2 separate regions of the Homo sapiens genome follow, and region 1 is reported to be linked to region 2. Evidence: microRNA targets listed by miRTarBase, many of them from high-throughput screens and not tested one by one. Region 2 holds a microRNA gene; the other region holds the end of a gene's coding sequence.
What was found. The annotated mature microRNA hsa-miR-6889-5p reads UCGGGGAGUCUGGGGUCCGGAAU and lies in region 2 at 3,090-3,112, opposite strand. An mRNA with a match to its seed (bases 2 to 7 or 8) in the 3' UTR can be bound and repressed. Matches are read on the target gene's strand: a 7mer-m8 pairs with bases 2 to 8, a 7mer-A1 pairs with bases 2 to 7 and ends in A, and an 8mer does both.

Region 1 (3,000 bases), not on the chromosome of region 2:
AGGGGGGCTACAGGAGTCTAGAAGGGAGAGGACATAATTCCCCCAAATCTCCAACTTTTGAGGAAAGCCTCCCCTCCTTGCCCCAGGTGGCCCCAGCACTGGGGTGGAACATGTGTACAGAGAACCAGGCCACAAGAGACTGGATACGCAGAGCCGCTATGGGCACCAGCCCCTCTGAGCTGTGTCCAGCCCCTACCCCTATGCCCTGTTCTTCCGGACAACAAGTCCAGGCCTGACCTGGTTCTGCCCCTACCTGGAAAGAGGGAAGACACAGAAGAAGACAGCCCCTGAGAAGTCCGCCCCAAGGCCTCCTTCCCCCTCGCACTGAAAGAATCTCTCAGCCCTGGATCAGGGCCCCTCACCAGGAAAGTTGACAGAGCGGGGTCTCAATGACACTGCCCCAGGGCCCAGCTGGGCTGGAAAACAGATCCAGACCAGCGCTCCCAGCCCTCCCTCCCCTAGCAGGAATAAAGGGCATGACAGACAATGGTGGGGACCGGGGTAGGAAGCGGGAGACCAGCCACCCTCAAACCTTGTCAAGTCTAAACAAGGGCCCTGAGCAAGTGTGGGGAAGAAAAGGCCCCAAATCCAGACCCCTCCGAGCCAAGCTCACAGCGCTCAGGGCTGGAACTCTGAATCAGCACCCCGACGCAGGCGGCAGAACTGAAGGGAACGTGAGCCCCTCCCTGCCTCTCAGGGGACACACGGCCGGGGCGCGCGGCTTTGGTCCCAGACACCCTCCACAACCCAGCGCAGCCGCGGCACCGCGCGCAGAAACCGGCCTGGGCGCTGGGAGGCCGGGCCCGAGGCCTGCGTGGAGCTGAGGCCGGGCGGGCTCCGGGAGCGCGCGGGCCGGGAGTCCAAAGGGCGGCGGGGCCCGGGACTGGGCGCCCCGGATATGAGCTCCAGGGTGGCAGGCAGGCCCTCCACACTGTGCGGCCCCCGGATCCCCGCCCCGACCCCCCAAGCACGGACGGCGGGACAGGCGACGGCACAGGGGACACGGTCTCCCCGGCTTCCCCACCTTCCCGGACCAACTCGTCCCCGTCGCGGGGGGGTGGGGAGGGCGGGGGGCGGGGCTTCCCGGAGAGATTTTCCCCCTTCCCTCTAAACTTCCCGGCACCCCGATCCGGGGCTCCAGCTCCGGCTGGACAATAGCTCGGGGACCCAGTCCCCCTCGAGTGTCGCCCCCCCAGCCAGCCCAGCCGACCAACCAAACCACCTCTCCCGAGCGGGGCCTCCTCCCGGCGTCCGCCCGGCTTACCTGGTCCGAGCTCGCGGGGGCGCTCCGGCCGGGCCGCTCCGCCGGGCCCGAGGGAGCCGCAAGGGGGGCCGGGGAAGGGGGGTCGTGGGGAGGGGGCTGGCCGGAATGTGCGGAATGAGCCGGGCTGGAGCGGGAGGCGCCGAGCGCGGAGGAGGGAGCGAGCGGGACGGAAAGTTTGTGTTGAGGAGCCGGGGCGGGGGTGGGGGCTGCGGGAAGGAGGGGGCGGGGCGCGCAGGGGGCGGTGCTGGCCGGGAGGGGCGGGGCCGTCCAGCCGCGCTCGGGCCGCCTACCCCGCGGCCTCGCGACCCGGCCACCCCGGCTGGCGCGCGCCTGGGCGCCCCGCTCCTCGCCCGCCCGTGCGGAGCTGCCTTCCTCCCCCTGCGCTCCGGGCCTCGCCCCGCTCCCGGGCACCCGCCGGAATTTGGGGCTCCGGCCTGGGGCGGGGCCGAGGGCGGAGCCCTCGCCTCGCGGGCAGGGCTCCCGTCGGTGCCGGGGGCCGTGGGTGCCGCGTCACGAGGAGCCCGGCAGAGCCGGAGCGCACGGGCCCCGGGGCTCCCGGCCCCTCCACCCTAGTCCCGAGCCGCCAAGGCGGAGCGTACCCTCCAGCTCGCGGGCCTGCCCCCCACTCCCGGGGCCCCAGACCCGGCTCCGCCCTGGCGGCTGCGCCCGCCCTGCCGGGACCCGGTTTGTCTGGTTCTCCCCGCGTGGCTAGTTTCTCGAATTTCTTCTCCCTTTCTCCCTCTTCCCCGACCTCCGGGACCCTCCCTTTCGCCCCGGCTCCCCGGGCCCCCACGGGGGGCGTCTCGACGCTGTGCGGCCGCCGAGTTTCGGTAGGACCCGCGACGGGCGCGGGGAGGGGACGCGGGAGCGCCCGGGGCCTGGGCAGGAGTGGGACGGGGGTTGAGACTTCCAGCTCGCGCCTCGGACGCCTCCTGCCGCCTCGTTCTCCGCACGCGCTGAGGAACCACCGCTCCGCTTGGCCAAGGACGCGGCTTTATTGGGGATGTGGGTGCCTGGCCCTCGTCCCCCATCACCTACCCCCTCCTCCTAGCCCGCCCCAGCTCCTCGGAGCCCTAGCGCGGTCCCGGGGAGAGGGGAGGTTAAAACAACAATGACTACTGCTCCCGGACAGGAAGTGACTGGGGCGCGGGGAGGAGGGGGGCACAGCGGCGCAGGCGAGCTCCGAGACCAGATGTGCGGCTCCAACTCCAGATGTTCTTCATCTCCGTCCTACCCGCCGTCCGGGCTCCTCCTGCCTCGGCCTGTGCCAGGCTGGGGAGAGGACGGAGGTCACCGAGAGGCAGTGAGAGGTCAGCCCCGACACAGGAGCAGTTTTCCGCGGGAGCTTTGCTGGAGGGACCCTGCCAGCCTCCACTGAATCCTTTCCCCCACGCTGACGGGCTCTGGGGGCGCTGAGGGGCTGCTGGGGTCACTCGCAGGCCAGCTTCCCGTCGAAACTGGAGAGGGCGATGGCGAAGGCCTGCAGGGCGCACAGCGGGTACCGGTAGTCTAGGGTGAAGGCGTCCTCCGCCACGCGGCCGAACTGCAGCACGATATAGTCGGCTATGGACACAAGACGGGGTGGGGGCGGCCCGAGACCTCCTTGGACCCCCATCCTGGCAGACAGTGCCCTCAACCTTGGGGGCAGTCTGTCCCTTGCCTTGGGGCTCCAACCCTCAGCCACCATCTCAGTTACTCAACACCCATCCCTTCTTCTATCTCACTCCACACCAGCA
Region 2 (8,194 bases):
GAAGAGGCGAACACGAGAGGGACGGCAGAGACACAGGAACCAGAGGGAGTGGCAGTTGGCATCAGGGGATGGGCTCAGTCCATCTGCCAGCTGTGACACTCTGGCCCTTGCCCATCCTGGCCTCAGGTATAAAATGGGCATGGGGATGACACCCACTGTGCCCACCTCACACCGTGGGAATGGAGATTTCCTGAGGCAGGCTACCACTGGGGAGGATTCAGGTTATTTTGGCAGGGTGAGGGGATGTGCAGGGACTGTGCTAGGCTTCCTGGGAAACAGAACTAGGGCAACTTGTTCCCAAAAATGCCCACAGGCGGGCCCTCAGGGAGCAGGCTTGTGTCTGGCCCCCACCTCCTTCCGAGCCTCATTTCCCACTGAGCCGCCCTCCCCGCTTCGACGCCACGCCGGGAAGAGGCACCACATGTCCTTCCACCCCTTTCTATCTTTTCCAGGAACCGTCCCCCTCGCCTCAGGGCCCTTCCTCCCCTCTGCCTAACCGGAACTGGCTCAGGTTTCGTTAGATGTGGAGGCTCAGTCAAGCACATGGAAACAGGGTGGAAGGTGACAGGTGCTGGAATGGAGGAAACAGACAGGGTGGGGAGAGGGTTGTGATAGGGCTGGAGGGATATGGGCTGGTGCTCCAAGGAAGCCCCCATAATGTTATGGGGAAAGGTGTCCTCTGTGCAAGGAACCTCCAGGTAGAGTGGACGTGAGCACAGAAGCTCCAAGGTGTGGACAAGGGCTTGGCTCTCACCATCCCTCCTCCCGATAGACCTGCGTCCATTGGGCTTGCAGATGTGACTATCTGGACTTCCTAGAGCGGGCTATGGGTTCTAACTGTACATGGCTGTGTGGATTTGGGAAAGGCCTCAGTTTCTCAGTGGTGAAAAACAGGGAGAAGAGCAGCCAGCTGGCTCCACGGCAGGACCCTGACGGAGGAAAAACTCAGGTGGCCAAAGAGCAGTTCCCATGAGAGCGCTGGGGCTGACGAGTTACGGCAACCACGAAGGATACCTGGGGCCCACGAGCATCAAGGGACAGAGGGCACCCAGGTCTCACCCAGCCCACATTACCTACTGCATCCTGCACTGCCATCCTCACAGTAGCTTCGTCCTTGAACACAGATGACACCTTTAGGAAGGCAGAGACCACCTTCTCGGGGTCAGACGTGTCAGTCTGAGGACAAAAGAGACAATGGTTGGCCTGTGGCACGTGGTGGAGAGGTACCTGGGCTCTGACGCTAGCTAGGAGAGGCCTGGGCAGTACAAAGGCCCCTGGCGGGCAAGAACAGGTCCTGCCTTACCCCATGCTGTCCCTTCAGAGTCTGGCTTGGATTTGGCCTGCAGCAAGCACATATGCAGCATAGAGAGGGAATGAATGAGTGAATGAACAAGGATGAAAAATCATCCCAGCCGGGTGTGGCGGCTCATGCCTGTAACCCCAGCACTTTGGGAGGCTGAGGTGGGAGGATGGCTTGAGGCGAAAAGTCTGAGACCAGCCTAGGCAACATAGCAAGACCCCATGTCAACAAAAAGGAAAAAAATTAGCCAAGGTTGGTGGTGTGTGCCTATAGTCTCAGCTACTTGGGAGGCTGAGGCAGGAGGACTGCTTGAGCCCAGGAGGTCGAGGTTGCACTGAGCCATGATTGCACCACTGCACTCCAGCCGGAGTCACAAAGCAAAACATTGTCTCAGAAAAAAAAAAAAAAAAATCATTTCAGGGATCCAGTGGTCCCCATCTTGTAATTGAACTTGAAGAAATAATCTAGCATGTAGACAATACTCACATGCAGAAACGTTTACCTCAACCTCACAACAGGGAAAAGTGGAAAAAACGTCAGAAACAGTGCCTGGCTTTTAAGTGCTACATCCACACATTGCAATAAAAATCCTGAGAAGAGTTTTATGGGCACAAGAAAGTGATGAATGGTGCTACACCAAAGTGATAGGCCACAGAAAGGCTTACAACATCTGATTTATCATGTTAAAAGAAACAAAGAATACAGGCAAAACCTAACAAAGCAATTGGCCGAAATGTTAAGCCAACTCTGAGAGTGGGCCCATTTTATTTCTCTGTAACCTCCGAGCCTCCGCTTTCTTATCTACAAAATAAGGGCTGGCCGGGCACGGTGGCTCATGCCTGTAACCCTAGCACTTTGGGAGGCCGAGGTGGGTGGATCATGAGGTCAGGAGTTTGAGACCAGCCTGGCCAACGTGGTGAAACCTCGTCTCTACTAAAAAATACAAAAATTAGCTGGGCGCGGGAGGCTGAGGCAGGAGAATTGCTTGAACCCAGGAGGCAGAGTCTGCAGTGAGCCGAGATCGTGCCACTGCACTCCAGCCTGGGCGACAGAGTGAGACTCCATCTCAAAAAAATAAATAAATAAATAAATAATAAAATAAAGTAAGGGCAGCAGAGTCTACATTTCATGTTGCCAAGAGGGTTAAATAAAATCATGCCCAAATGCAGTGCCTGGCAGAAAATGGATGCCCCGAAGATCATCTATGAATGAATGAATGAGCCAACCAACAAGTGAGGCTGGAGTGAGGGCACCCATCCTGCAATAGGCACGTCACTTCCAAAGGAGCCCTGGGCAACAGAGTTGTTCTCGAAGCAGCTGGGCTGACGGAACACGCAGAGAGAAGCCAAGGAGGGGGTGGGCACATGCAAGGCTCTTAAGGAAATTCCCTAACCCCAGTCAGCATGGGAACTGGCGGGCTGTACTTTCTGTAGGCTGAGTGGGGAGGGAACATTTGCAACCCCTGGAGGCTTATAAATACCCTGGACATTTGCGCGTGTTGTAACAGTGGCAGGCCAAGCCTCCCTGCCCCCAGCTGACAGCGTCGCACCCCCAGGTCTCTGAGCTGTTCGTCCCTTTTCTCTAACAGCTCCAGAAGCCACAGCACGTACAGCGTGGGGGTCGAGGGGTGGTTATTACCTGCTGGGCTATCAGCACGGAGCTCTTGGGCCCTAGGCGCAGCAGCTTCTCTGGAGAGGGAAAAGCCAGGAAGGTGGAGACGTCTGCAGGAGGTGGGGAGGACAGCACGGGAGCTGGCTCCTGGGAAGTAGGGGCACAGAGGCTCTGGAGAATTCCGGACCCCAGACTCCCCGACACAGCTGTGCCCATCCCCACACCCAGCACATCCACCCTTCACTCCAGCCCATCTAGGCTCAAAGTCTAGAATTCTTCCTCCCACTCAGCTGCATTTCCCATCTATCAATATCACCCAGAGATGCTGGCCCTGGATGGCTCTTGGTCCAGGAGCCTTTGGGGTGAGGGGGAAGCTACCTCCCTGGGACTCAAAAAACCTGCTACGGCCAAGTGGATCCTCGTCATGACATGCAGTGCCCCAGAAATGACTACGGAGGCACATGGGGGCTAAAGTGGGTCCCCGTAGAACTACAGTCCAGCCTGGGTAAGCCCTGCTAGCACCAGAGGTGCCCAGAGGAAAAACTGAATTGAGGCGAACCTAGCCATTTGTTTAATTGATTCCATAAACCAGAGAAGCAGCCCAATTCAGCGTAAGCATGGGGAGTCCTTGTCCAGAGCCAAGTTCTCCAGGAGCTTTACTTAGGAACCTGACAGGGAATGCAAATGAATGAACTGGAGGTGTGGCAGCCCTGATGCAGCCCCGGGCCAGACAAGGGACACCAAGTGCCCAAGCCAGGTCATGGCCCAGCCACCATCCCAGGAATGGGGGAGTGGTTCCTAAGGGTCACCAAGACAATCCTCTGGTGGGTGGGGAAAAAAAAAATCAGAATTTCTATTTATGCTTATTTGTTTATTCTTTCAGAAACCCTTATGCATATCTTATAATATACATAATGCAGCAGCACTGCTACCTGTAAATAGACATTTATATTGGGGTAAATAGAAATATAGGTAACTATGGCTGGGCCCGGTGGCTCAATGCCTGTAATCCCAGCACTTTGGGAGGTCGAGGAGGGTGGATCACCTGAGGTCAGAAGTTCAAGACCAGCCTGGCCAATATGGCGAAACCCCGGCTCTACTAAAGATACAAAAATTAGCCAGGCGTGGTGGCAAGCATCTGTAATCCCAGCTGTTTGGGAGGCTGAGGCATAAGAATCACTTGAACCCGGGAGGCAGAGGTTGCAGTGAGCCGAGATCACACCACTGCACTCCAGCCTGGGTGACAAGAGTGAGACTCCATCTCAAAAAAAAAAAAAAGAAATATAGGTAACTATCATTACACTGGGACCATTTTCCTTTTTTTACTCAATATCATGCAATCAAAAAAAAATGTTTGTGGCTACTGTGCTTAAGGAGACACCCCCTACCCCATTGTGAAAGTGCCTCGGGATTTCACGTTCTCAGGACCAGGGCTCTGATTGTGGCAGATGATAGAAACTCACCCCAGTGTTAGGGTCCAGAATCTTCCGTGAGGGCGTGGCTGACTTCTCTCCCTGCCCTCGCTGCTGAGGCTCTTCTTCCTCCTCCTCCTCCTCTTCTTCCTCCTCTTCCTCATCTTCCTCCTCCTCTTCTTCTGCTTCCTCTTCTTCCTCTTCTCCTTCCTCCTCCTCCTCCTCGTCCTCGTCATCACTGCAGAAAGAGCTGGCTGAAGCAGATCCTCTCTACCCAGCAGCCCAGGTTGGCTCTAAGGCCTGGCTCCATGAGCCCAGAGACCTCACCTCAGCCAGGAGGGAGAGAGCCTGGTGGGGTGGGAGCACCTGCTCCCAGGGCAGGGGCAGGTGGATCACCAGGGAAATCCATGCTGTGGACACAAAAAAATAAGATCGGCCCGGCGCGGTGGCTCATGCCTGTAATCCCAGCACTTTGGGAGGCCGAGGTGGGTGGATCATGAGGTCAGGAGATCGAGACCATCCTGGCTAACGTGGTGAAACCCCGTCTCTACTAAAAATACAAAAAATTAGCCGGGTGTGGTGGCGGGCGCCTGTGGTCCCAGCTACTCAGGAGGCTGAGGCAGGAGAATGGCGTGAACCCTGGAGGCGGAGCTGGCAGTGAGCCGAAATTGTGCCACTGCACTCTAGCCTGGGCAACAGAGCGAGACTCCATCCCCCACAAAAAAACAAAAAAAAAAAACAAAAAAAAATCAGATCTTGTCCCTGTCCTCAAGGAGCCCCAGGTTTCATGGAGAGACAGAAAACGAAGACAGCTTTGTCACACCTAGAGCCCAGGGCTTGGCAGGAACACTGCCCAGGTTGAGATGCCAGGGCAGGGGCGCCCACATCCACATGACCTCAGGAAGCTACAGGTGTGGGGGAGGAAGAAGAGTAGGGGTGTCCTTGCCCCATAGGAAGGCTGGACCATTTCCCAGGGACAGTGGGACCTGTGAGGTTCAGCCCACCTCGGAGTCCCCAGTTCCTAGCCTCAGCTCAGGGCCTAGCACCGAGGAGACACGACTGAGTATCTGACACACGAATGAGGCCGACTTGGAGATGCGAGGGGCACAGGGAGCCCGATGCTGATGGCCCAACCGGACTTGGATCCAGGAGATGGCCACTCCCCGGCCACCCACCTTCACCTCCAGGTAGACTCCCCAGGCCCCATGGTCTCTTCCTTTCTAGAGTCAGCGTCTTAAGAACAATCCCGAGTGCAGCCCCTTCTGGCTGCCCCCACCTCCCACCCCCATCACTCCCCAGGCCCCACCACATCAGGATGAGATCTGGCCTCACCCCTTCAGAGGCCTCCCCAACTCCACCACTCTACAGGGTGGCCCCGCTCAGCCCGTACGAGCTCCTCTGTTGAACGGACAACTCATTCTGTCTCCACCCCACGAGACAGAAGCCCTGACTGTCCCATCCTTATAGCCCTGATGCCTAGTGTATGACCTAGTACGTAACAGGAGTGCACCCAACGTTTCTGAATAAATACAAGTAGAAACAAATAAAGGGGCCAGGTGTGGTGGTGGGTGCCTGTAATCCCAGCTACTTGGGAGGCTGAGGCAGGGGAATCACTTGAACCCAGGAGGTGGAAGCTGCAGTGAGCCGAGATCACGCCACTGTACTTTAGCCTGGGGAACAGAGCAAGACTCCATCTCAAGAACAAAAGAAAGAAAGAAAGGAATGGCCTGACCCCGACCTCTGGGGCCACCCCGAGTTCCCTACCTGAGGGACGCCAGCACCTTGGCCATGTTGAAGCCCTCCAGCACCTCCTGAAGCTGTTCACAGCCTTCTTCTCCCAGGGTGTTGCCTGCTCAAGGGGAGGGAAGAGCAGTCAGCCGGGGTGCCAGGGCCAGCCTAGCAGACCTGTGCAGAGGCCTCCCCCATCCGACTACCATTCAGGTCCAGCTTCTCCAGCTCAGCTTTGTCTGCCATGGCCTCAGCAACAGCCAGGGCAGCATCCCTCTTGATTTCACAGAATGACAAGTTCAGCTCCTGAAAATAAGAGGAAGGGTTGGAGGCAGGCAGAAACCCGGGCCAGGACACCAGGTTCTACTCTAAGCCTCAGTTTCCCCAAGTGAGGATATGGCAGGCTCTGTCCTCCAGGTGGGGCAAAGTGGGCAGGAAGAATAACACCAACAACAAAAATAATGCCCTGCAGCCAACGATGAGTCACGTACTGTGTTTACTTAAATCACAAGACAGTGATGTACACCACTCCCTGCCTCCCGCTTTAGAAATGAAGAAACCATGGCTCAGAGGGGTGTGGAGGCTCACACAGCATCACAGGGCCCGAAGTGGAGGAGCTGGGATATGGACACAGGCCCACCTGCCTTCAGACCAGACCCCTGTGCCCCCAGCCGCCCCACCACCCACAGACCCCAGAGGGAGGACGTCAGGCGTCCAGGCTGGCACCTTTAGCTTGGGCAGGCCGCCGCGGATGGCATCTGCAATGGCAACTGCACCCTTGGAGCGCACCAGGCAGTCCCCAAAATTAATCACCTCCACCTGCCGCAAGGTCTTCAAGGTCTGTGAGGGGGAAGCAAGGGTCCAGAGTGAGGGTGCAGACCACACCCCAGCCCTCAGCAAGCCCCGGGGGCCCCACACGGTCACATCCCAAGCCAGCCACCACACACTGTCCTCCTCTGCAAGTCACCAGCTTTGCCGTCTTCTACTTGTTGGCCTCTGGGCCCCTGGCCAAACCTCCTCCACCCCTCCCCATGTTACGGCCAGAACTCTTCCTGAGACCAACCAAGCAAGGTTCCTGCTGAGCATCCGGGTCTTCCACACGTAAGCTGATCCCTCTGCCTGAAACACCCATCCCCCACCCTCTGTCCAGAGAAAGACCACTTGCCCTATACAACTTAGCCAAAATGTGATCTCTTCCAGGAAGCCTGCCCTAAGTCTGATTTGAACTTCCTTCTGGCGTGTTCCCCAACACCTGCACACATCTCTGCTAACACACAGGCAGCCGGACTAGCCTTCTGTGGGGCCACGGGACCCTGGCAGCCAAGAAGCCACTGCGTTCAGAGCCCAGCACTGTTACCACTGGCAGCTTCCTTCCCTCCTTGAGCTAGGGTCTCCCTGAAGGCGGGGTCTTTGGCTCAACCCCATGTGGCCTGCACTTGGTACAAAGCCAAGCACTAAATGGGGACTCAAAAAACAGCTGCTGGGCCAGGCACAGTGGCCTGCACCTGTAATCCCAGCTACTCAGAAGGCTGAGGTGGGAGGATCACTTGATCCCAGAAGTTCAAGACCAGCTTGGGCAACAGTAAGATTCCGTCTCAAAAAGTGATAATAAATAACAAAACAAACAACAGCTGCTGAACAAATCAACCAGGAAAACAGATGTGGGGAGCAGTCTGCTCCTGTGCAGCCTGAGAACAAACCAGCGGCAGCCGCTGGGGGCTGCAGAGGCGGCTCAGGAGAAGGTGGCATGAAGAATCAGAGCTGCCCGAGGAGGGCGTGGGTTACCTTGGGACCTGCAACCCTGTTCAGGACATGTTCAAAGAGCTGGAGCCATGGGGCACACACCCAGGGGGCAGGCAGGGGGTAGAGGAGTCCCTGCTAAACGGAGCCCCAGCTTCCCTGGAAAGACAGCAGCCAGCCTCTATCTGGCGGGGCCCAACTGGCTCTGCCACACTCGCCTCACCTCGGCCATGGCCACGGCGCCCTTCTCAGTGAAGGTGTTGTCATTCAGGTTGATGACCCGCAGCAGGGGGTTGACAGCGAAAGCCTGGGCCAGGGCAGTGATGCCAGGGTGGTTGATCCCATTCTGTGGCATGTGGACCTCCTCCAGGGTCCCGATGACCTGTGAAGAGGAGGCAGAGAG

Region 1: miRTarBase lists TULP1 as a target of hsa-miR-6889-5p. Seed matches in the 3' UTR shown: 7mer-m8 at 2,412-2,418 and 7mer-m8 at 2,350-2,356.

The regions. Positions count from the first base shown.
Region 1 is chr6:35,495,634-35,498,633 of GRCh38, forward strand. It overlaps TULP1 (TUB like protein 1), which reads right to left. Exons shown (of 15, transcript NM_003322.6): 15 at 2,241-2,827. The coding sequence ends at 2,694. TEAD3 (TEA domain transcription factor 3) reads right to left here and starts at 1,446. Exons shown (of 13, transcript NM_003214.4): 1 at 1,265-1,446. It overlaps LOC124901309 (a long non-coding RNA gene), which reads left to right and starts at 2,500. Exons shown (of 2, transcript XR_007059561.1): 1 at 2,500-2,574. RefSeq lists enhancers at 1-475, 1,422-2,352, 2,353-3,000 and silencers at 1,254-1,303, 1,484-1,613, 1,624-1,953.
Region 2 is chr22:41,249,934-41,258,127 of GRCh38, forward strand. It overlaps MIR6889 (microRNA 6889), which reads right to left and starts at 3,117; the gene lies at 3,059-3,117. RANGAP1 (Ran GTPase activating protein 1) reads right to left here. Exons shown (of 16, transcript NM_002883.4): 7 at 8,015-8,173; 8 at 6,778-6,891; 9 at 6,258-6,357; 10 at 6,088-6,172; 11 at 4,375-4,561; 12 at 2,939-3,058; 13 at 1,074-1,176. RefSeq lists enhancers at 6,444-6,987, 6,988-7,531, 8,076-8,194.